Linked DNA regions of Homo sapiens: region 1 is linked to region 2. Evidence: fine-mapped QTL for protein levels in blood plasma. A gene starts in region 2. The other region holds a variant in brackets. All regions are shown on one strand. Distances are between the middles of the regions.

Region 1 (8,000 bases), 450 kb before region 2:
AGGGGCTAATGCAGCTGGTGATTTTAATTGGAAACCAAATTTAACATTCCAAAAAAAGCTTATTTACCATTCCAAAATCCTAGGGCCCTTAAGAATTATGCTAAATCTACTCTATTAATGGAACAACAAAGCCTAGATGATATCACATCTGTTTTACAGCATGGTTTACTGAATTTATTAAGCCCACTGTGGAGATCTGCTCAGGAAAAAAGGTTCCTTTCAAAATGTTACTGCTCACTGGCAGTGTACCTCTTCACCCAAGACCTCTGATGGGAATGTACAAAGAGATTAATATTGTTTGTGTGGTTTTTTTTTTTCTTTTTAGACGGAGTCTCTCTCTGTTGCCCAGGCTGGAGTGCAGTGGCACGATCTCAGCTCACTGCAAGCTCCACCTCCTGGGTTCACGCCATTCTCCTGTCTCAGCCTCCCGAGTAGCTGGGACTACAGGCGTCCGCCACCACGTCCGGCTAATTTTTTTCGTATTTTTAGTAGAGATGGGGTTTCACCATGTTAGCCAGGATGATCGCGATCTCCTCACCTCATGATCCGCCCGCCTCAGCCTCCCAAAGTGCTGGGATTATAGGCGTGAGCGACCGTGCCCAGCCTGTTTGGTTTTTTAAGACAAGGTCTCATTCTGTTGCCCAAGTTGGAGTGCAATGGTACAATCATGGCTCACTGCAGGCTCAGTGTCCCTGGGCTCAGGTGATCCTTCCACCTCAGCCTTTAGCTGGGACTACAAGCACATGCCAACACACCCAGTTAATTTTTGTGTTTTGGTAGAGACACAGTTTGACCCTGTTACCCAGGCTGGTTTAGAACTCCTGGGCTCAAGGGATTTGCCTGCCTCAGCTTCCCAAAGTGCTGGGATTACAGGCATGAGCTACCATGCCTTGCCTGAGATTAATACCGTTTTCATGCCAGATAGCAGTATTCATTCTGTGGCCCATGGATCAAGGAGTAATCTCAACTTTAGTCTTATTATTTAAGAAATATATTTCATGGCCTGGCACAGTGGCTCACACCTGTAATCCCAGCACTTTGGGAGGTCGAGGCGGGTGGATCACGAGGTCAGGAGATTGAGACCATCTGGCTAACACGGTGAAACCCAGTCTCTACTGAAAATAGAAAAAAAATTAGCCGGGCGTGGTGGCGGGCGCTTGTAGTCCCAGCTACTGGGGAGGCTGAGGCAGGAGAATGGCGTGAACCCGGGAGGCGGAGCTTGCAGTGAGCCGAGATTGCACCACTGCACTACAGCCTGGGCGACTGAGCAAGACTCTGTCTCAAAAAAAAAAATATATATATATATATGTGTGTGTGTGTGTGTATATATATATATTTCATAAGGCTATAGCTGACATAGTGATTCTGCTGGTAAATCTGGACCAAATAAATTGAAAAACATCTGGAAAGGATTCACCACTGTAGATGCCATTAAGAACATATTTATGGCCAGGCATAGTGGCTCATGTCTGTAATCCCAATGTTTTGATAGGCCCAGGTGGTGGATCCCTTGAGGCCAGGAGTTTGAGACCAGCCTGGGAAACATAGTGAGACCATCTCTACAAAAAATTAGCCATGGCCCGGTGCGGTGGCTCACGCCTGTAATCCTAGCAGTTTGGGAGGCCAAGGTGGGCAGATCACAAGTCAGGGGTACAAGACCAGCCTGACCAGTATGGTGAAACCTGGTCTCTACTAAACATACAAAAATTAGCCGAGTGTGGTGGCATGGGCCTGTAGTCCCAGCTACTTGGGAGGCTGAAGCAGGAGAATCACTTGAACCTGGGAGACGGAGGTTGCAGTGAGCCAAGATCACACCACCCCACCACACTCCAGCCTAGGCAACAGAGCTAGACTCCATCTCAAAAAAAAAAAAAAAAAAAAAAAAAAAAAAAAATTAGCCATGCTTGGTGGTGTACACCTGTAGTCCCAACTATTTGGGTGGCTGAGGTGGGAGGATCACTTGAGCCCAGGAATTCGAGGTTGCAATGAGCTCTGATCTTGCCACTCTATTCCAGCCTGGGCATGAGAGTGAGACCCTGTCTCTAAAAAAAATAATTAAAATGAAAAAGAGCATTTGTGGTACATGGGAGGAGGTCAAAATATCAACATTAACAGGAGTTTGGAAAAAGTTGGTTCCCACCCTTATTGATGACTTTGAGGGGTTCAAGACTTCAGTGGAGGAAGTAACTGCAAATGTGGTGAAAATAGTGAGAGAGCTAGAATTAGAAATGGAGTCGAAGATGCGACTGAATTGCTGCAATCTATAATGAAACTTGAGCAGATGGAAGAGTTGCTTCTTATGGATGAGCAAATAAAGAAGTTTGTTTTTTTAAGATGGAATCTACTCCTGGTGGAGATGCTGTAAACATTGTTAAAATAACAAGGTATTTAGGATATTACATAAAGTGAGTTTATAAAGCAGCAGTAGGGTTTGAGAGGATTGACTCCAATTTTGAAAGACGTTCTACCATGGGTAAAATGATATCAAACAGCATTGCATGCTACAGAGAAGTCTCTTTGTGAAAGGAAGTATCAATCCATGTTGCAAACTTTATTGTTGTCTTATTTTAAGAAATGTCAGCTGGGCATGGTGGCTCACGTCTGTAATCCTAGCACTTTGGGAGGCTGAGGCGGGTGGATCACAAGGTCAGGAGATTGAGACCATCCTGGCTAACATGGTGAAACCCCGTCTCTACTAAAAATACAAAAAAAAAACTAGCCAGGCATGGTGGCAGGCACCTGTAGTCCCAGCTACTCAGGAGGCTGAGGCAGGAGAATGGCGTGAACCCAGGAGGCGGAGCTTGCAGTGAGCCGAGATCGCGCCACTACGCTCCAGCCTGGGCGACAGAGCGAGACTTCGTCTCAAAAAAAAAAAAGAAAAGAAATTGTCGACCCGAGAAACAGCGAGATCTTGTATCGGCAAAAATTAAAGGATTAGCCAGCCATTGTGGCACGTGCCTGTAGTCCCAGCTACTCCGGAGGCTAAGGTGGAAGGATTACCAGAGTCCAGGAGTTTGTGGCTGTGGTGAGCTGTGATTGCACCAGTGCACTCCAGCCTGGGCAACAGAGCAAGACCCTGTCCGTCCGCCGCCAAAAAAAAAAAAAAAGAAAAACGGTTTACACTTCAGCGAAAGAAAAAGAAGTTGCTATATCCACCCCAACCTTCAGCAACCACCACCACTCTGATCAGTCAGCAGCCCTCAACAATGAGGCAAGTTCCTCCACAGGCCAAGATTATGACTCACTGAAGGCTCAGATGATTGTTAGCATTTTTAGCAATAAAGTATTTTTAAATAAAAGTATGTACCTTGTTTTTTAGATACAGTGCTGTTGTACACTTAATAGCCTACAGTATAATGTAAATATATGCACTGTGAAACCAAAAAGTTTTGTATGACTTGCTTACTGGAATAGTTGCTTTATTGCAATGATCTGGAACTGAACCCACAATATCTCCAAGATATGGTTATACTAAGTAGTCTGAAAATACAAAATAGTCTAGTAATAAATAGTCTATAATAAATAATATATTAATATAATTATATTTATTAATTATTAATAATTATTAATATATATTAATATATTTTTATATAATATATAATATAAAATATATAATAAATAAGTAGTCTAGTAATAAAAGAATACCAGCCTGGGCAACATAGTGAAACCTTGTCTTTACCAAAAATACAAAAAATTAACTGGGTATGGTGGCATGCACTGTAGTCCCAGCTACTCAGGAGGCTGAGGTGGGAGGATCACTTGAGCCTGGGAGGCAGAGGTTGCATTGAGTCTAGATTGTGCCACTGCACTCCAGCCTGGGTGACAGAGTGAGGCCCCATCTCAAAAGGAAAAAAGAATAAAATGCTTTCCTCTACATTCTTTTTTTTTTTTTTCTTTTTTCTTTTTAAGACAGAGTCTTGCTGTGTCGCCCAGGTCCGGAGTGCAGTGGTGCGATCTTGGCTCACTGCAACCTCTGCCTCTTGAATTCAAGCAAATCTCTTGCCTCAGCCTCCTAAGTAGCTGGGACTATGGCCGCGTACCACCACGCCCAGCTAATTTTTGTATTTTTAGTAGAGATGGGGTTTCACCATGTTGGCCAGGCTGGTCTCAAACTCCTGACCTCAAGTGATCTGCCCGCCTCGGCCTCCCAAAGTGCTGAGATTACAGGCGTGAGTCACCACACCTGGCCTCCCCTACATTCTTGAAGGAAAGCATTTACTTGTTATTTCTTAAATTATGGTTAAATACAGGTAATATAAAGTTTACCATCATAACCATTACGTTTTTT[T/C]CTTTTTGCATAGAACATTTCATTGTCATGTACCCATTTTAAAGCATACCAGTGTCATCAAGTTTTTTCACAGTGTGCAACCATCACCACTATCTAGTTCTAGAATTTCATCACCCCAAACAAACTCCATACCTTTGAGCAGTCATTCTCCGTTTTCTCCTCCACTTAACTCCTGGCAACAACAAATCTATTCTGTCTTGGTGAATTTGTCTAATCTGTATATTTCATATAAATGGAACTATATAATATGTAGCCTTTTGTGTAGGCTTCTTTGATACAGTGTGTTTTCTTTTTTCTTTTTTTTTTTTTTGAGACAGAGTCTCACTGTGTTGCCCAGGCTGGAGTGCAGTGGTGTGATCTCTGCTTACTGCAAGCTCCGCCTCCTGGGTTCATGCCATTCTCCTGCCTCAGTCTCCCGAGTACCTGGGACTACAGGTGCCTGCCACCACACCTGGCTAATTTTTTGTATTTTTAGTAGAGATGGGGTTTCACCGTGATAGCCAGGATGGTCTTGATCTCCTGACCTCGTGATCCACCCACCTCGACCTCCCAAAGTGCTGGGATTACAGGCGTGAGCCACCAAACCCAGCTGATACAGTGTGTTTTCTTGGTATATCCATGTTGTAGCATGTATTAGTACTTCATTCCTTTTTATGGTCGACTATTTCCTTGTATGGATCAACCACATTTTGTTTATTCATATCATGGTAAACATTTGTGTTATTTCCATCTTTTAGCTGTTTTAAATAGTGCTGCAGTGAATATTTATGTACAAGCTTTTGTTTGAACACCTTGTTCAATTCTTTTAGATATATGCCTAGAAGTGGAATTGCTGAGTCACATGGTCATTCTGTGTTTAGTTTATTGAGGAACTGCAAATCCAATTTCCATAGCGGCTGCACCATCTTATATTCCCACCAGTAGATGTATGAGGGTTCCAATTTCTCTGCATTTTTGCTAGCACTCATTATTTTCCATTTTTTAAATTATAGCGATCCTAGTGGGTGTGAAGTGGTATTTCTTGGCAGTTTTGATTTGACATTCACTTTTTCTTTTAAAATATGAAGTGTAGGTTCTGTCCATTGCCTTACATTATTAGTTATGTTTTACTAGTAATATATATATTCTGCCTTGTCTATTTCACAGTGGCCATATTCTTCTCTTGGGTATTATCTCCTATCTTTAACTAAGCTATAAATTCCTTAGAGACAGGGTATCAGGTTCTAATGCTACCTGATACATCCAGCCAGGGCAGGTGTTTGTTCGTCTTACAAGGAAGACAATAGATATAAATTTTTTTTTTCTACAGCCTCGACCTCCTGGGCTCAGGTGATTCTCACACCTCACCCTCCCGAGTAGCCGGGATTACGGGCACGCACCACCATGCCCAGCTAATTTTTTGTATTTGTATTTGTATTTTTTTGTTTTGTGTGTGTGTATGTTTAATTTTTTTTGTATTTTTAGTAGAGACGGTGTTTTGCTATGTTACCCAGGCTGGTCTCAAACTCCTGGACAGAAGCTGTCTGCCCGTCTTGACCTCCCAGAGTGATGGGATTATAGATGTGCACCACCGTGCCCGGCCAGACATACAATATTGTCAGCTTTTTATTTTCTCTCCCTTCCTTGACCACCATTTTCTGAATCTTTTAGCTTATATTTTACCTCTGCATGGAATTGTCCCTGTTGAATCATCTCTTGTTAGAATTCTACTTATTCTTCTCCCTCTTTTCCTAAAGCCTTTTCTGATCAGTCTAATAAAAATATGATACTTCCCTTTTGTTTTTACTGCCGCTTGAGCACCTACTTTGTATTAAACATTTTACTTTATCGACTTTAAATCTTCACAGTGGCCCACAAGGTGATACTCATTCTCCACAAGATATTAATGTTCAGAGAAATTATATAACTTGTCTAAGTAGTATAGGAGCTGAGATTTAAACTTAGGTCTCAGGCAGGTGCAGTGGCTCACATGTGTAATCCCAGCATTTTGGAAGGCCAAGGCGGGCAGATCAGCTGAGGTCAGGAGTTTGAGACCAGCCTGGCCAACATGGCAAAACGCTGACTTTACCAAAAATACAAAAATTAGGCAGGCGTGGTGGCACACGGCCATATTCCCAGCTACTTGGGAGGCTGAGGCACAAGAATCTCTTGAACCTGGGAGGTGGAGGTTGCAGTGAGCCAAGATTTCGCACCACTGCACTCCAGCCTGGGTGACACAGCGAGACTGTCTCAAAATAAAATTAAAGAAATAAATAGGCTGGGCATGGTGGCTCACGCCTGTAATCCTAGCACTTTAGGAGGCCAAGACAGGCGGATTGCCTGAGCTCAGGAGTTGGAGGCCATCCTGGGCAACATGGTGAAACCCCGTCTCTACTAAAATACAAAAAATTAGGTGGGGTAGTGGCGTGTGCCTGTAGTCCCAGCTACTGTGGAGGTTGAGGCAGGAGAACTGCTTGAACCCAGGAGGTGGGAGGTTGCAGTGAGCCGAGAGCGTGCCACTGCACTCCAGCCTGAGCGACAGAGCGAGACTCCGTCTCTAAAAAATAAATAAACAAACTTAGGTCTCTTTGACTCCAAAGCTATTGTTTTCTCTCCACTACTATTTTATGCTGACTCTTGTGGCCTTATGCGTTTTGTTGTAGTTGTTATAGTTAACAAGAATCTGATATAGATTTTCGTGTCCATCCTGGTGTCTTTATCATTCTATAAATATTTGTGGAATAAATGAAAAGGGGACTTTGTTCTTCATGAACTAGGATAATTATCTTCATGGGCTAGGATATTAGCAACAGGTTTGCGAAATAGCCCTGTTTAACAAAAGAATATAAATTCAAAATCAGTCTGTTACCCACTAAATTATGGATACTTCATTCAAATTATGAGATAGATTAGGTCAACCTGCATCAAATCAGTATAGATCAGTAAGTAAGAGCTTGACTCTAGAGTGAGCCTGCCCCGGTTCTTTTCCTGCTTTGTTCTGTAAGTTACCTAACATCTGCTTTCTCATGTATGAAGTGGAGATTAGTATTTAGCATTTAGAATTGTTAGGATTAAATGAGACATTAGATAAAAGAGTCAACAACTGACTGTATAGTAAACATGCCTTAGGGAATAATTATTATTAACATTATCCATTGTCTTTCCCATTCTTTGTGATTTGATTATGATTGTTGAGTGAGAACTTTTTCCTTGTGTATTATTGAAAATAAGAAAGGACAGTATTTTTTCTTCTACTTTTTAAAAAATATTCTTACTATATTTAAGGATATTAGTGGCTCGATAGAGATGATCGATGCATCTTTTATGGCAGGGAGTCGTCGCATGGTGGATGTCATGGACGTGAACACACAGAAAGGCATTGAAATGACCATGGCTCAGTGGACACGCTACTATGAGACCCCAGAGGAGGAGCGAGAGAAACTCTATAATGTCATCAGCCTCGAGTTTAGCCACACCAGGCTGGAGAATATGGTGCAGAGGCCCTCCACGGTTAGTGTAATCATTTTCTTCATATTGTCATTGTCACCAAAAGGGTTGTTTTCGGCTGGACGTTGGTAACTGATGCTTGTTATCCCAGCACTTTGGGAGGCCAAGGGAGGCAGATCGCTTGAGCTGAGGAGTTTGAGAGCAGCCGGGGCAACATGGTGAAACCACATCTCTACAAAAAGTACAAAAAAAAAAATTAGCTGGGTGTGATGGCACATGTCTGTAG
Region 2 (14,364 bases):
CCCTTCGTCCTTCTGCTGGGCCCCAGAGGGGCCACCTTCCTTAACACTACTAAGAGGTACACCCGCAGTGGGGTGGTGACTTGGTTTTGGTCACCACCAGAGCAGGCTATTGAAAGTTACTATAGAGGTGTCACCTTGATGGCCACCAAGATGACAAGCTGCCCCTCCTTCACCACCTCGGCAACATGCCTCTGTCCTTGCAGCCCGGAGAGGGCTGTGGTCACTCCTGAGTCGCCCTTACCCAAAGGTGCCATGTGGAGCCCCAGTTTTACAGCTCTTTGTTGCTTTAAGCAAAATTTTAAAATGTTTGATCCGGGATTTCAGTCATTTTCAAGGACAGTGTAACTCAGATGACTCGGTTTGCCCTGTTTTGGGAACAACCCTCAGGCTCATTTTATAGATGTGAAAACTGAGGCTCAGAAAATTGTCTGCAGGCACACAAGCCCTAGAGGCAGGCTGCAGGTGGCCCACAGAACCCTAGGGGCAGACTGTTCAGCGGCACACAGAGCCCTAGAGGCGGGCTGCAGGTGGCGCACAGAGCCCTAGAGGCGGGCTGTAGGTGGCACTCAGTGCGTCCAATGTGGCTCCATCCCCTCCTGCTGCCTCTCAAGAGCAAAGTGGGGAAGGATGAAGGTGAGGTCCCCTGCACTCAGCCCTGGGGCCTCTACCTCCCACCAGGCTCAGCTGTCTGCTGGGAGGAGCTGAGGCCAGTTCCGAAGTCACTGGGGAGTGAGGCAAGCTGCTCCGCCAGGGCCTGCTGGATGCCAGGTGCTGGGACCCTGAGCTGGAGCCTCCCCCAGGCATCGATCCTGGGCCTTCTTTACCACCACACTGGGTCTCCCCGGGCCAGTCCAGCCCTGCTCCAGATGCCAGGCCCACCAGCCTGGGGGGCTCTGGGTGGCCAGGACCCTCTAAGTTACACCCTCTCGGAAGCTGCCCCAGATCACACTCAGCTCTGTGTGGCCTGGGCTCTCCTGCCCTCCACACCCAAGGCTTCGTGAGCTCAGAGCATGGCGATTGTGGGGACAGGGGATTTGTCATCCTGGCTCCCATCAGGGCAGCTGGGATCTTGACAGGGTGTCAAGAGGGGTGGATGGAGTGTGAGGCTGAGCCCCCAGTGGGCCGGGGCTCCCTATGAGCCCCCTCCAGGGGCCACTCCTCCTGGCACCTGGAGCCTCAGCAAAGGGAGGGCAGAGACTGCCATTAGGGGGCCATGCCATGCCATCAACTCCTGTATCCGGCCCAGCCCTGGGGGCAGCTGTCACCGGCTCCATTTTGCAGGTGTGGACTGAAGCTCTAGGGGTTGGGTGACTTGACTGAGTCCTTGGCAGGTGGTGGGAGAGGGAGTCAGCAGAGGAGCCTGTCGGCCTGGGTCTGTTCCTTCCTTGCTTGGGGTAGGGGTCTCAGGGACCCCCATGCTGCTTTATGAGTCCCAGGCCATGGTCTTTGTTGGAAGGCCCCCCCAACCCCCACAGAGGCTGGGATCCTGCTGACTCGGTGTGGTACCTCTCAGGAAGGAAGGGCCTCCGTGGCAGACCTAGCTATTTTGGGGGCTGCTGGGGGCCAGGGTGCTTCCTGCCACAAGGTGCTGGGCCCCCAAGTTTAGGGAGAACAGCAGTAGGGGTGCTGGAAAGTTTCACTTCCCTTGGCTGGGGTCCAGCTTCTGCATTTCAGTGAGTGTTTATGGAACAGAACGGGGTCCAGGAACCCTCAGAAACAGCAGCCCCCAGTCCTGGCAGTGTGTGCGCGTGTGTGCATGTGTGTGCATGCATGTGTGCATCTGTACATGTGTGCGTGTGCATGAGAGCATGTGTGTGCGTGTGTGCACTCACATGTGTACGTGACAGCATGCGTGTGTGCGTGCGTGTGTACATGTGTGTGCATGTGCATGAGTATTGTGTGCATGTGTGCATGTATGTGTACATGTGTGCGTGTGTGCATGAGAGCATGTGTGCGTGTGTGCGCATGTGTGACAGCATGCATGTGTGCGTGTGTACGTGTGTGCATGTGCATGAGAGTATTGTGTGCATGTGTGCATGCATGTGTGTGTACATGTGTGCGTGTGTGCATGAGAGTGTGTGTGCATGTGTGTGCATGTGTGCATGTGCTTGAGAGCGTGTGTGCGTGCATGTGCGTGAGCATGTGTGCGTGTGTGTGTGTTGTGTGCACACGTGTGACCTGGCTCTGGCCCCACCTCCCTGACAGGCTGTGTGACCTGGAGAGATTCAGTGCCCTCTCTGGGCCTTGGCTCCACCCTGTGAAAGTCCTGGCCAAGGGCAGCTGTGGGGAGTGAGGAACAAAGGGCGGGCACAAGCTTGAAAATGGGCACATGGAGACCCCAGCATGAGTGAGGGCAGAGGATGGTGATGTCATGGGCATCATCACGGGGGCCAATTTCCTCACTGCAGTTGGGGAAACTGAGACCCAGAGAGGGGTCAGAGCTGTGGTTCCCCCCTGTGTCAGCATCCAATTAGATCATGCCTCCCAGCATCACCTCATTGCAAGATGCAATCAGATCACGCCTCATTACCCTATGCTTATAAAACCTGCCCCAGCCCTCAGCTCGGGGAGACACTGCTTTGGGAGCTGTCTAGGTGTTCTCCTTACTTGTTGCAAGAAATAAAATCCCCTATTAAATCCTCTTTAGTTAACACCCGCCAAGCAACTGAGCCCACCCGTTGTGTGGGTAACAAAACTCTGGCGACCCAGATGGGGCCGACTGGGATTCTGATCCTAACTTCTTGAGGCTCACTAAGGTAAAGCAGTGGGCCGCGGCACCTTCCCCGGGCGAACTCACCCACGTGGCCCCAGAGGGTTGAGGGTGACTCCCGGGGATCTTCTGCTTGCTGCGTGGCCCGTGGGGCTGTCACTCCGCCCTACCCCCGAAACAGCGGAAGCAGCTGCCTGGAGCTTTTGTTCTGTGCTGCTCCTTCAGGGAAGAAAGTGGACTTTGCCCCGTGGGTTGACTGAAAGGGTAAATTCTTTGGACCTAGCAGTGGGATCTCTAGACTTCAGCGCAGGGCACCTCTGCTTTCGGTTTCTGTCTGGCTCTACGTGCCGTGGGGGATTGAGAGGCATCTCTGGCCAGGCCAAGGGCAACCCGGATCCCGGATCTGGGTAGACAACAGTGGGACTAGTTTTGGGAATTCGTTTTTTTTTTTTTGAGACAGAGTCTGGCTCTGTCACCCAAGCTGGGGTGCAGTGGCGCGATCTCGGCTCACTGCAAGCTCCACCTCCCGGGTTCACGCCATTCTCCTGCCTCAGCTTCCTGAGTAGCTGGGACCACAGGCGCCCGCCACCACGCCCGGCTAATTTTTTGCATTTTTAGTAGAGACGGGGTTTCACCGTGTTAGCCAGGATGGTCTCGATCTCTTGACCTCGTGATCCGCCCGCCTCGGCCTCCCAAAGTGCTGAGATTACAGGCGTGAGCCACCGCGCCCAGCATGAGAATTTGTTCTTTTTTAGAGAAACAGAATTTTTCACAGGAGGCTGAGCTGCTCCATCTCCCAGAGCCCCTACTTGCCATACCCCGGGTTACCAGAAACAGGAGCTCTGCCATTTGATGAAAAAAATACTTTTTTCAGATAAATGTTTTTGTCATATCATCACACAAAGCGGGTAAAGTTGTATATATATACATACAACTTTTTACAAATATGTGATCATATGTACAAAGGCTAGAAGGAAATATACAGAAAAATATGTATTAAAATACTGGTTTTTTTTCATTGTTTTATAAGATACTCTACAAAACATTACAATGAGGTAGGACTATTTTAGTGCTAGAGAATCTCATTAAATGAATTTGTTCAAGAGCTTCTTTGTCAGCTGGGTGCAGTGGCTCACACCTGTAACCCCAACACTTTGGGAGGCCAAGGGGGGCAGATTGCTTGAGCCTAGGTGTTCAAGACCAGCCTGGGCAACATAGGGAGACCCTGTCTCTACCAAAAAAAAAAAAAAAATTAGGGTGGGCGCGGTGGCTCACACCTATAATCCCAGCACTTTGGGAGGCTGAGGCGAGTGGATCACCTGATGTCAGGAGTGTAAGACCAGCCTGGGCAACATGGCAAAACCCCGTCTGTACTAAAAATACAAAATTTATCCAGGCATGGTGGTGGGTGCCTGTAATCCCAGCTACTTGGGAGGCTGAGGCATGAGGCAGAGGTTGCAGTGAGCCGAGATCATGCCATTGCACTACAGCCTGGGCGACAAGAGCGAAACTCTGTCTCAAAAAAAAAAAAAAAAAAAAATTAGCCAGGTGGTGGCACACACAGCTGTGGCCCCAGCTACTCAGGAGGCTGAGGCGGGAGAATCACTTGAGCACGGGGAGTTGGAGGTAATCGTACCGTGAGTACAGTGAGCCGTTATCGTATGGCTGCATTCCAGGCTAGACAACACAGTGAGACCTTGTCTCAAAAGAAAATAAATAAATAAATAAATAAATAAATAAATAAATAAATAAATAAAGAGCTTCTTTGTCAATATCCTTTTGTGGGTATACATCATAGTCCCACAGTACTTCTTCAACCCAGGGAGATAAATGTGTATTAGTCTGAAGACCCAGGAGAGAATCTTCAAGACTTGGCACTGTCACTGATGATGATCTGCTTCCTTACATTATGACAAATGTATTCCCAGCTCCGGCTTGTTCTGCCTCATTAAGAGAATATTTGAAGACATTATTCATGATAGCAGCATCAGCATTTTGCAGAAGAAACCCTGGGGACAGATGTCTGCATGAAGCACCTTTATTCTGTGAATAAACTGGTATTTTTTAATGACCATTTCCTGCAACTGGCAAAAGTCTCCGTTCAGTTCTACTCCACAGGGTTGCACTGCTAAGCTATAAGATCACCCCATAAAGACTGTGCTGAGCCTGGAGCTGACGTCAGCCACAGCCTTTCCTGATTGATCAGGGAGTGCATGAAGATAAATGAACTTCAATTCCATGAGGGAGAAGGAACGAGCAATCGGTCTAAAGGTTCTGTTTGGTGTGAACCACCCAGTAGTTTCTGCTCATTTTCCCTTTGTCACATAATGAATCAATGAAGTCTTTATCACAAAGGAATGCGTCAGCGTGAATGGTGGGTTCTGGCTGCTGCTGTAGTTTTTGAAGGGTTAGATGTTCTGAGGAAAGCATGGTTTCTAGAGGCAAGCAATTCTGAAGGTCTTCTGCAGTGGGTTTTTTTTTTTTTTAATTTTGAGACAAGGTCCGGCTCTGTCACCCAGGCTGGAGTGCAGTGGCTCGACTGTGGCTCACTGCAACCTCCAACTTCCAGGTTCAAGCAGTCCTCCCATCTCAGCCTCCCAAGTAGCTGAAACTACAGGCACGCACCCAGCTAATTTTTTTTTTGAGATGGGGTCTTGCTATGTTGTCCAGTCTGGTCTCAAACTCCTGAGCTCAAGTGATCCACCCCCTTCAGCCTCCTAAAGTGCTGAGATTACAGGCATAAGCCACCACACCCAACCTTTCTGCTGTGTTTTTAAACACAATGTCTTTATTTCCTTCAGTGAATTCATCAAAATCTCGGGCAGTTTGCATCTGCTGGAGCAGTGCCGGGCGGTCGGCAGAGCCACAGTATAGAGCAGTTACAAGATTTCCTGCCTTGCCGAGTGAAATCTATGCCTTCCAATTTTTTTTAATTAATTAATTTTTAAAAAATTAGATTGGTACAAAAGTAATTGCAGTTTTTGCCATTACTTTCAATGGCAAAAACAGCGGTTACTTTTGAACCAACCTAATATTATAGAGACAGGGTTTCACCATCTTACCTAGGTTGGTCTCGAACTCCTAAGCTCAAGTGATCCACCCACCTCGGCCTCCCAAAGCGTGGTGATTATAGGCATGAGCCACCATGCCCGCCCCTCCCCACCAATATATTTTTAAAACTAGTTGAGTGTGGGCCAAGAGTTGTGGGATCTGTGTCACCACCAATCCCGCCTCTAAGCTGCTGGGTGGGTAATATGGGAAAACAGTAATTGTAGCAGGACTCCAGTGGCAGAAGCCATGCGGATAAACTACAAAAAGCAGAAGGGACACTGGGGATGCTGACATCTCCATTGGTTGAGATTACCCTTAAGGTATTGAGCAACTGTGGCCAGGTCCAGGAAGGGCAAAAAAAAAACAAAAAACAAAAAACAAAAAGGCAACACAAGACAAGAAGCCATCGAGTCTCTTGGCTACAACCAGCCAGTACACAAGAAACAGTTCACTGCGGCCAGGCGTGGTGGCTCATGTCCGTAATCCCAGCACTTTGGGAGGCTGAGGCGGGAGGATCACCTGAGGTCAGGAGTTCAAGACCAGCGTGGCCAACATGGCTAACCCTGTCTCTACTAAAAATATAAAAAATTAGCCAGGCATGGTGGTGGGCACTTGTAATCCCAACTACTCGGGAGGCTGAAGCAGGAGAATCGCTTCAACCCAGGAAGCGAAGGTTGTAAGCTGATATCGCGCCATTGCACTCTAGCCTGTGCGACAAGAGCAAAACTCTTTCTTGAAAAAAACAAAAAACAAAAAAACAAAACAGTTCACTGGAGATGATCAGCCATAAGTAAGATCCCTAGGGACCCCACTGCCCGGCCAAAGGGCCTCCCGCCCTTGAGAACACAACAGTGTGCATATTGTAAACAAGAGGGCCATTGGGTACTAGAGTGTCCTAACTGTCCCCAGTGGGTAGGGAAAGAAACTTCCCCGTCAATCAGCCCACCAGATGCTACAGTTTGCTAATAGTGACCAGAAGTGATGGGACTTGGGGACTCCTCTATGATCTGGGAACCCCTAGATCGGGTAACAATTGCTGTGGGAGAGACTCACGGGTTTTCCGACACTAGAGCCAAATTTTTGCCTGTCTCCTTTCTACCGTGTTCTTCCTAAAATTTAGGAAAGGGCTTCTGCTGTATGGGAGAGATAAATTTTAGCTAAAATTGTTAGTTGGACGGAGACAGAGTTGGAACTGTCTTTTAAGTAGTGAATTTTACCTGACCCATGGCTAAACCTTTAAAAGTTAAAGCTATAGGATCGTTATTTGTATCTGGTAGTATGTACACGTCCGGTTATATTTGGCTATGGTACCGAATTGGCTTATAAAGAAATGAGTACTCATAAACTAAGCAAATAAGACCAAGTGCTTTTCAAGTTCACATGACAGTAATCTTTTGGTGAATGGAACTAGTCTAAAATTGTTGGTTTGATGGGAATGGTGTGCCTTCTGAAATGTAACTTAAAGGTTCTTACTTTTTTTTTTTTTTTTTTGAGACGGAGTCTCGCTCTGTCGCCCAGGCTGGAGTGCAGTGGCGTGATCTCGGCTCACTGCAAGCTCTGCCTCCCGGGTTCACGCCATTCTCCTTCCTCAGCCTCCCGAGTAGCTGGGACTACAGGCGCCTGCCACCACGCCCGGCTAATTTTTTGTATTTTTTTTTTTTTTTTAGTAGAGATGGGGTTTCACTGTGTTAGCCAGGATGGTCTTGATCTCCTGACCTCGTGATCTGCCCACCTCGGCCTCCTAAAGTGCTGGGATTACAGGCGTGAGCCACAGCATCCGGCCTTAAAGGTTCTTACTTTTATGATAGTTGCCTGACATCCAGCTATATAAAGGTAATTAACAGATAAATAATTTGAAATGATGACTAGCTTTGTCTAATATATCAGTTCTCATAAGTAATCCTGGTAAACTGCTAAAAATAAATAAAGTATGTAAAGGTAAATGGGATAAGTATCTATCGGCTTTTTAATGTAATTTGAAATCCTCTATTAGGTAATGGATACTCATTAACTATGTGAGTTATTTCCAAATAAGACAAAAACTGGAACAAATTGCTGACCATAAATATGTTTGCCCTGGGTCTCTTAAATTTAATATAAAGACTAAATATGTTTGGGCCTATAAATACGTATAAAAATTATGCTATAGGAAAACATGTTTTTCTAACAATTACAAAATGGCTCTTCCCCATAAAATACCAATATGTGATAGGAAGTTCAAGATTTTGTGCTTCCTATGTTTTCAACAAAATTTAAGGGAACTGGATGGGCACTGTGGCTCATGCCTGTAATTCCAGCACTTTGGGAAGCTGAAGCAGGAGGATCGTTTGAGATCAGGAGGTTCAGACCAGCCTGGGCAACATAGTGAAACTCTGTCTCTACTGAAAAACAAAAAAGAAAAAATTAGCCAGGGGTGGTGGCACATGCCTACTGTAGTCCCAGCTACTCAGGAGGCTGAGGTGGGAGGATCACTTGAGCCAGGGAGGTCAAGGCTCCAGTAAGCCAAAATCAATGCCACTGCACTCCAGCCTGGGTGATGGAGCACGACCTTGTTTCAAAAAAAGAAAAAAGATAATTAAAAACAAAAATTTAAGAGTACTAAGGGTTTTTAAAAATCCTAATATACAATTCTATATAGGAAGTGTGCCAAAAGTAAGGAGCACTTAATAAGAAAACAGTAAGAAAGGTATACAATATATTCTTTATTGAGAAAAAAAGTAATTTGTCTAATTTAGCTGTTATTTAAAGGGAGTTTTAAAATATGGATTTAGGAAAGAAATAGAAAAAAGATTAAAAGGAACCAGTAAGTAGATGAGACAGAGATGTAAAGAAAATTACAGATGTGAAGCAATGAGAGTAATTTTGTATAGGAAAGAAACTTGTGTGTTCAATCTCTGTCTTGGACTAAAATGACTAGACATTTAAGAAAGAGGAAGTACAGGGCAAGTCCAAGCATGCCACAGCTGTCTGAGTAAGTCATGATAAGGCTTGTGAATGGGAACTTATGATGGAAATGTTGGGTGTGATTAAATTGGCTGTAATTAAATGAAATGATTTGTAATAGTTTTTTTTTTTTTTGAGATGGAGTCTGGCTGTCTTGCTCATTTGCCAAGGCTGGAGTGCAGTGGTTCGATCTTGCCACACTGCAACTTGCATCTCCTGGGTTCAAGTGAGTCTCCTGCCTCAGCCTCCTGAGTAGCTGGGATTACAGGCGTGCACTACCATGCCTGGCTAATTTTCGTATATTCAGTAGAGATGGGGTTTCACCATGTTGGCCAGGCTGGTCTTGAACTCCTGACTTCAGGTGATCCTGGCCTCCCAACGTGCTGGGATTACAGGCATGAGCCACCATGCCTGGCCTGTAACAGTTTTTCTAGAGAATGAATTTGAATGTTAAAACACATGATACATAACTTACAATTTTGGTCCCCTGTGTTAAAACAACAGTGGTTTCGGCTGAGCGCAGTGGCTCATGCCTGTAATCCAGGCACTTTGGGAGGCCGAGGCAGGTGGATCATGAGGTCAGGAGATTTGAGACCAACCTGGCTAACATGGTGAAACCCCGTCTCTACTAAAAATACAAAATATTACCCAGGCTTGGGGGCGTGCACCTGCAGTCCCAGCTACTCAGGAGGCTGAGGCAGGAGAATGGCGTGAACCCAGGAGACGGAGCTTGCAGTGAGCCGAGATCACACCACTGCACTTCAGCTTGGGTGACAGAACGAGACTCCGTCTTAAAAACAAACAAACAAAAAACAGCAGTTTCTTAAGACATTAATTCACTCTTAGTAAAGTTCCAAGAGGTTTTGATATTTATTTCTAAAACCTGCTTCGTTAATAGCCATTCTCTGAATTACAAATTAGTTTCTGTTTCTGTCATATTCCTTCTTAAGATCAGTCTAATTTCTTTGGTTTCAGGTTTATCTCAAAGGTCTAGAAAAGCAGCTTTACGCCAGTATAAACTGATTCTGTGTTCTTGGTTTTTCTTAATGTGTCTGAGTTGTTTCATGTAACCAGGACTTCCCATGGTATTACTAATGTATTCCCCTGCTCACCAGCCTAGGAAACACAGATTGCTTAGGGAGACTGAGCTTTAAAGTGTTAAGGTTTTTCCATGCATGTAACTTTTCGTGTTGCTTTTGAATTCTTTTGATTGTCACTGTGGTTAAACGAGTAACTATTATTCGGCAGTGATCTCTGATTCTGTTGAAGGAAGCCATTTGAACTTTTTGACATCCTCTTTGGCAGAATTCCCCAGGATCCAAATCCTAAATTAAGCCATCTGGCCTAAAATCAACTTTGAGATTCTACCAAAAGGGCCTCCTGGAACAAGCCTCAAAGGTTTTGTCTCTGATCTTTTGGAGATATTAAATGATCAGGCTTACTTGGTAAATAATATGGGAAGCATTGTCAAATAGAAACGGTGTTTAACTTCCTTTAAGTAATGTTTGTGTAAGTGTGTCACTAACACAGGGGAAAAGGTTTGAGATTCCTAAAACTCTGATATGCCAAGATATGTGTCATGACTGTGATGGTTGTGTCACATGGTTGTATGCCAGAGAAATGCTGAAATTTCTGGCCGGGCACGGTGGCTCACATCTGTAATCCCAGCACTTTGGGAGGCCGAGGCGGGTGGATCACGAGGTTAGGAGATTGAGACCATCCTGGCTAACATGGTGAAACCCTGTCTTTACTAAAAATATAAAAAATTAGCCGGGCATGGTGGTGGGCACCTGTAGTCCCAGCTACTCGGTAGGCTGAGACAGGAGAATGGTGTGAACCTGGGAGGCGGAGCTTGCAGTGAGCTGAGAATGCGCCACTGCACTCCAGCCTGGGTGACAGAGTGAGACTCCGTCTCAAAAAGAAAAAGGAAAAAAAAAGAAATGCTGAAATTTCCTGTCAATTGTAAATTGTCATCAGATCTCTGACTGGCTGCTCTGGGCTTTTGTCACCCACAGTTAATTCTTATTTTTCAGTCAGGGTCTCACTCTATTGCCCAGGCTGGAGTACAGTGGCGTGATCACAGCTCACTTCAGCCTTAACCTCCCAGGCTCAAGTGATCCTCCCACCTCAGCTTCCTGAGTAGCTGGGACTACAGGGGTGCTCCACTGTGCCCAGCTAATTGTCTTTATTTTTTTATAAGGACAAGGTCTCATGTTTCCCAGGCTGGTCTCAAACTCCTGAGCTCAAGTGATTCTCCCGTCTTGGCTTCCCAAAATGCTGGGATTATAGGCGTGAGCCACCATGCCCTGCCACCCACAGTTGTTTTAAATTCTTCTCTGGAAGCATTCACAATTGGCTATGGTCCAAAATTGCTAATTAAGATTGAGCAAAACTGGCCAGGTGCAGTGGCTCACGCTTGTTGTAGGGTCCAGCCCTACAGGATATGTGGGTTTTTTCTCTTCATGTGTGGAGATGAGAGATGGTAGAAATAAATACACAAGACAAAGAGATAGAAGAAAACACAGCTGGGCCCAGGGGACCACTACCACCAAGGTGTGGAGACCGGTAGTGGCCCCAAATGCCTGACCGCACTGTTATTTATTGGATACAAGGTAAAAGGGGCAGGGTAAGGAGTGTGAGTCATCTCCAATGATTGATAAAGTCACGCGAGTGAAGTGTCCACCAGACAGGGGGCCTTTCCCTTTAGGTAGCCAAGGCGGAGAGACAGAGGACAGCTTACATCATTATTTCTTCTATGCTCTTCTCAGAAAGATCAAAGACTTTAATACTTTCACTAATACTGCTACTGCTATCTAGAAGGCAGAGCCAGGTGTACGGAGCATAACATGAATGTGAAACAGGAGCGTGACCGCTGAAGCACAGCATCACAGGGAGACAGGCCACCAGATGGCTGTAGGTGGGCCTGACTGATGTCAGGCCTTCCACAAGAGGTGGTGGAGCAGAGTCTTCTCTAACTCCCCCAGGAAAAGGGAGACTCCCTTTCCCAGTCTGCTAAGTAACGGGTGCCTTCCCCAGGCACTGATGCTACGCCTAGACCAAGGTCCGCTAGGTAATGGATGCCTTCCCAGGTGCTGGTGTTACCACTAGACCAGGGAGCCCTCTAGTGGCCCTGTCCAGGCGTAACAGAGGGCTCACACTCATCTGGTCACTTCTCACCGTGCCCCTTCAGCTCCTATCTCTGTATGGCCTGGTTTTTCCTGGGTTATAATTATAGAACAAAGATTATTATAATATTGGAATAAAGAGTGATGCTACAAACTAATGATTAATGATACTCATATACAATCATATCTATAATCTATTTCTAGTATAACTATTCTTATTCTATATATTTTCTTTATTATACTGGGACAGCTTGTGCCCTCAGTCTCTTGCCTTGGCACCTGGGTGGCTTGTCGCCCACACCTGTAATCTCAGCACTTGGGGAGGCCAAGGTGGATGGATCACTTGAGGCCAGGAGTTTGAGAACAGCCTGGCCAACAAGGTGAAACCCTGCCTCTACTAAAAATACAAAAAAATTAGCCTGGTGTGGTGGCGGGCAACTGTAATCCCAGCTACTCAGGAGGCTGAGGCAGGAGAATCGCTTGAACATGGGAGGTGGAGGTTGCAGTGACCCAAGATTGCACCACTGCCCTCCAGCCTGGGTGATGGAGCGAGACTCTGTCTTAAAAATAAATAAATAAAAAGATTGAGCAAAACAAAAATAATTACATGAAATTAAGTAATTGATATGAATAATGTTTTTATGACTTAAATGTGAGACTATCACCTCATTTTGTTTTGCAGATTCAAGGAAATTTTCTGTCATAACCTGCCTATAGTTTGTGAGGACTAAACTCTGATTTTTTTTGTTCTTATTTTGCTCAAATTCCTCCCTAAGGGGCCTGGGGAGTCACACCCTACAAACCATAAAGTCTCATCAGAGAGGCTTTAATTTTAACCCTATAGCGTGGTCTGCTTTCTGACCTGACTCTGGCATAACCTCACATAACAAATAAGAGAAGAAATCAAAATATTTTAACCCCAAATATATTTGCTTGCCATATCTTGAAACTGCCCTGCAAAGTTGTCTCCTGTGGAAAAAATCTACATTCTGTAGAGAATCCCATTTTCCCTTTTTTCTAACTTCTTTCCAGATCCAGGAGATAATCAACTAAGAACCAGGCACCCTTTTATGTTAGATAAGAAACACTTCAGGCCAGTGCAGTGGCTCACACCTGTAATCCCAGCTCTTTGGGTGGCCGAGGCATGTGGATCACTTGAGGTCAGGAGTTCAAGACCAGACTGGCCAACGTGATGAAACCCTGTCTCTACAAAAATACAAAAATTTGCCAGGCGTGGTGGTGCACGCCTGTAATCCCAGCTGCTCAGGAGGCTGAGGCAGGAGAATCACTTGAACGCAGGAGGGAGAGGTTGCAGTGAGCTGAGATCACTCCACTGCACTCCAGCCTGGGCAACACAGCAAGACCCCATCTCAAAAAAAAAAAAAAAAAAGAAAAAGAAAGATTTTACAGCCTACTATCTGAGAGCTTCCTCTGCACAATAAAACTTGGTCTCCACAATCCTTTATCTTAACATGAACATTTCCTTTGTGTTGATCCCAGGTCTTCAGATAAACTCAACCAATTGTCAACCAGGAAAATTTTAAATGTACCTATAGCCTGGAAGCCCCTGCTTTGAGTTGTCCCATCTTTCTGGACCAAACCAACATATATCTTGCACGTATTGATTGATGCGTCACGTCTCCCTAAAATGTATAAATCCAAGCTGTGACCTGACAGTCTTGGGTACATGTTCTCAGGATCTCCTAAGGGCTGTGTCACGGGCCGTGGTCATTCATCTTTGGCTCAGAATAAGTCTCTTAAATATTGTACAGAGTTTGACTCTTTTGATCGACATTTGCAATAACTCGATCAAGGGTCCTTTGTGAACAAAGGTGGAACTTATTCATTTTTTCTCCCTACTTGATTCCTACAAAATTCAGAAACTATTCATGAACATTCTTATTTATATATAGTAAAACAAACAAACAAAAACAAACAAACAAAAACCCTGCTCTCAGGGCTGGGCACAGTGGCTCACGCCTGTAATCCCAGCACTTTCAGAGGCCAAGGTGGGAGGATCACCTGAAGTCAGAATTTCAAGACCAGCCTGGCCAACATGGTGAAACCTCATCTCTACTAAAATAGAACAAATTAGCTGGGCATGGTGGCGGGCACCTGTAATCCCAGCTACTAGGGAGACTGAGGCAGGAGAATCACTTGAACCCGGGAGGCAGAGGTTGCAGTGAGCCGAGATTGTGCCTCTGTACTTCAGCCTGGGCTACAGAGGGAGATGCCACCTCAAAAAATAAAAAAACAAAAAACAAAAACGAAAAACAAACCCTGGTCCCTGTAAGCAGGACACAATTAGAAACATCGATTGTATTACTAAGGTTTGGACTGAAATACCATTTTTAAGAAATGTGGGCTGGGAATGGTGGCTCACGCCTGTAATCCCAGCATTCTGGGAGGCCGAGGTAGACTGCTTGACCCCAGGAGTTCAAGAGCAGCCTGGGCAACATAGTTCTAAATCTGAGATTTCCTTCATGATCAAAGATGGGTGGGAACCCCATTCTGCAAGATAAGTGTCAACCTCAG

Direction of the effects. Positions count from the first base shown, and alleles are read on the strand shown. Strength reflects both the effect of a copy and how common the allele is.
For the plasma level of the protein whose gene starts at base 2,945 in region 2, allele C in region 1 goes with a lower level than allele T (weak association).

What was found. PIP is the posterior inclusion probability: the model's chance that the variant is causal. The UK Biobank Pharma Proteomics Project read protein levels with antibody pairs (Olink). The fine-mapping took linkage between variants from a reference panel, not from the people measured, so its PIPs are less certain.
Region 1: its variant is fine-mapped to the plasma level of the ACY3 protein (UK Biobank, PIP above 0.99).

The regions. Positions count from the first base shown.
Region 1 is chr11:67,199,912-67,207,911 of GRCh38, forward strand. It overlaps KDM2A (lysine demethylase 2A), which reads left to right. Exons shown (of 21, transcript NM_012308.3): 6 at 7,599-7,777. Among named protein-coding and RNA genes, the nearest start is that of GRK2, 63 kb to the right of the region's middle. The variant T/C (reference allele first, on the strand shown) is at 4,289.
Region 2 is chr11:67,647,786-67,662,149 of GRCh38, forward strand. It overlaps ACY3 (aminoacylase 3), which reads right to left and starts at 2,945. Exons shown (of 8, transcript NM_080658.2): 1 at 2,798-2,945. RefSeq lists enhancers at 327-406, 817-1,339, 867-1,286, 3,017-3,096, 3,167-3,226 and 1 more.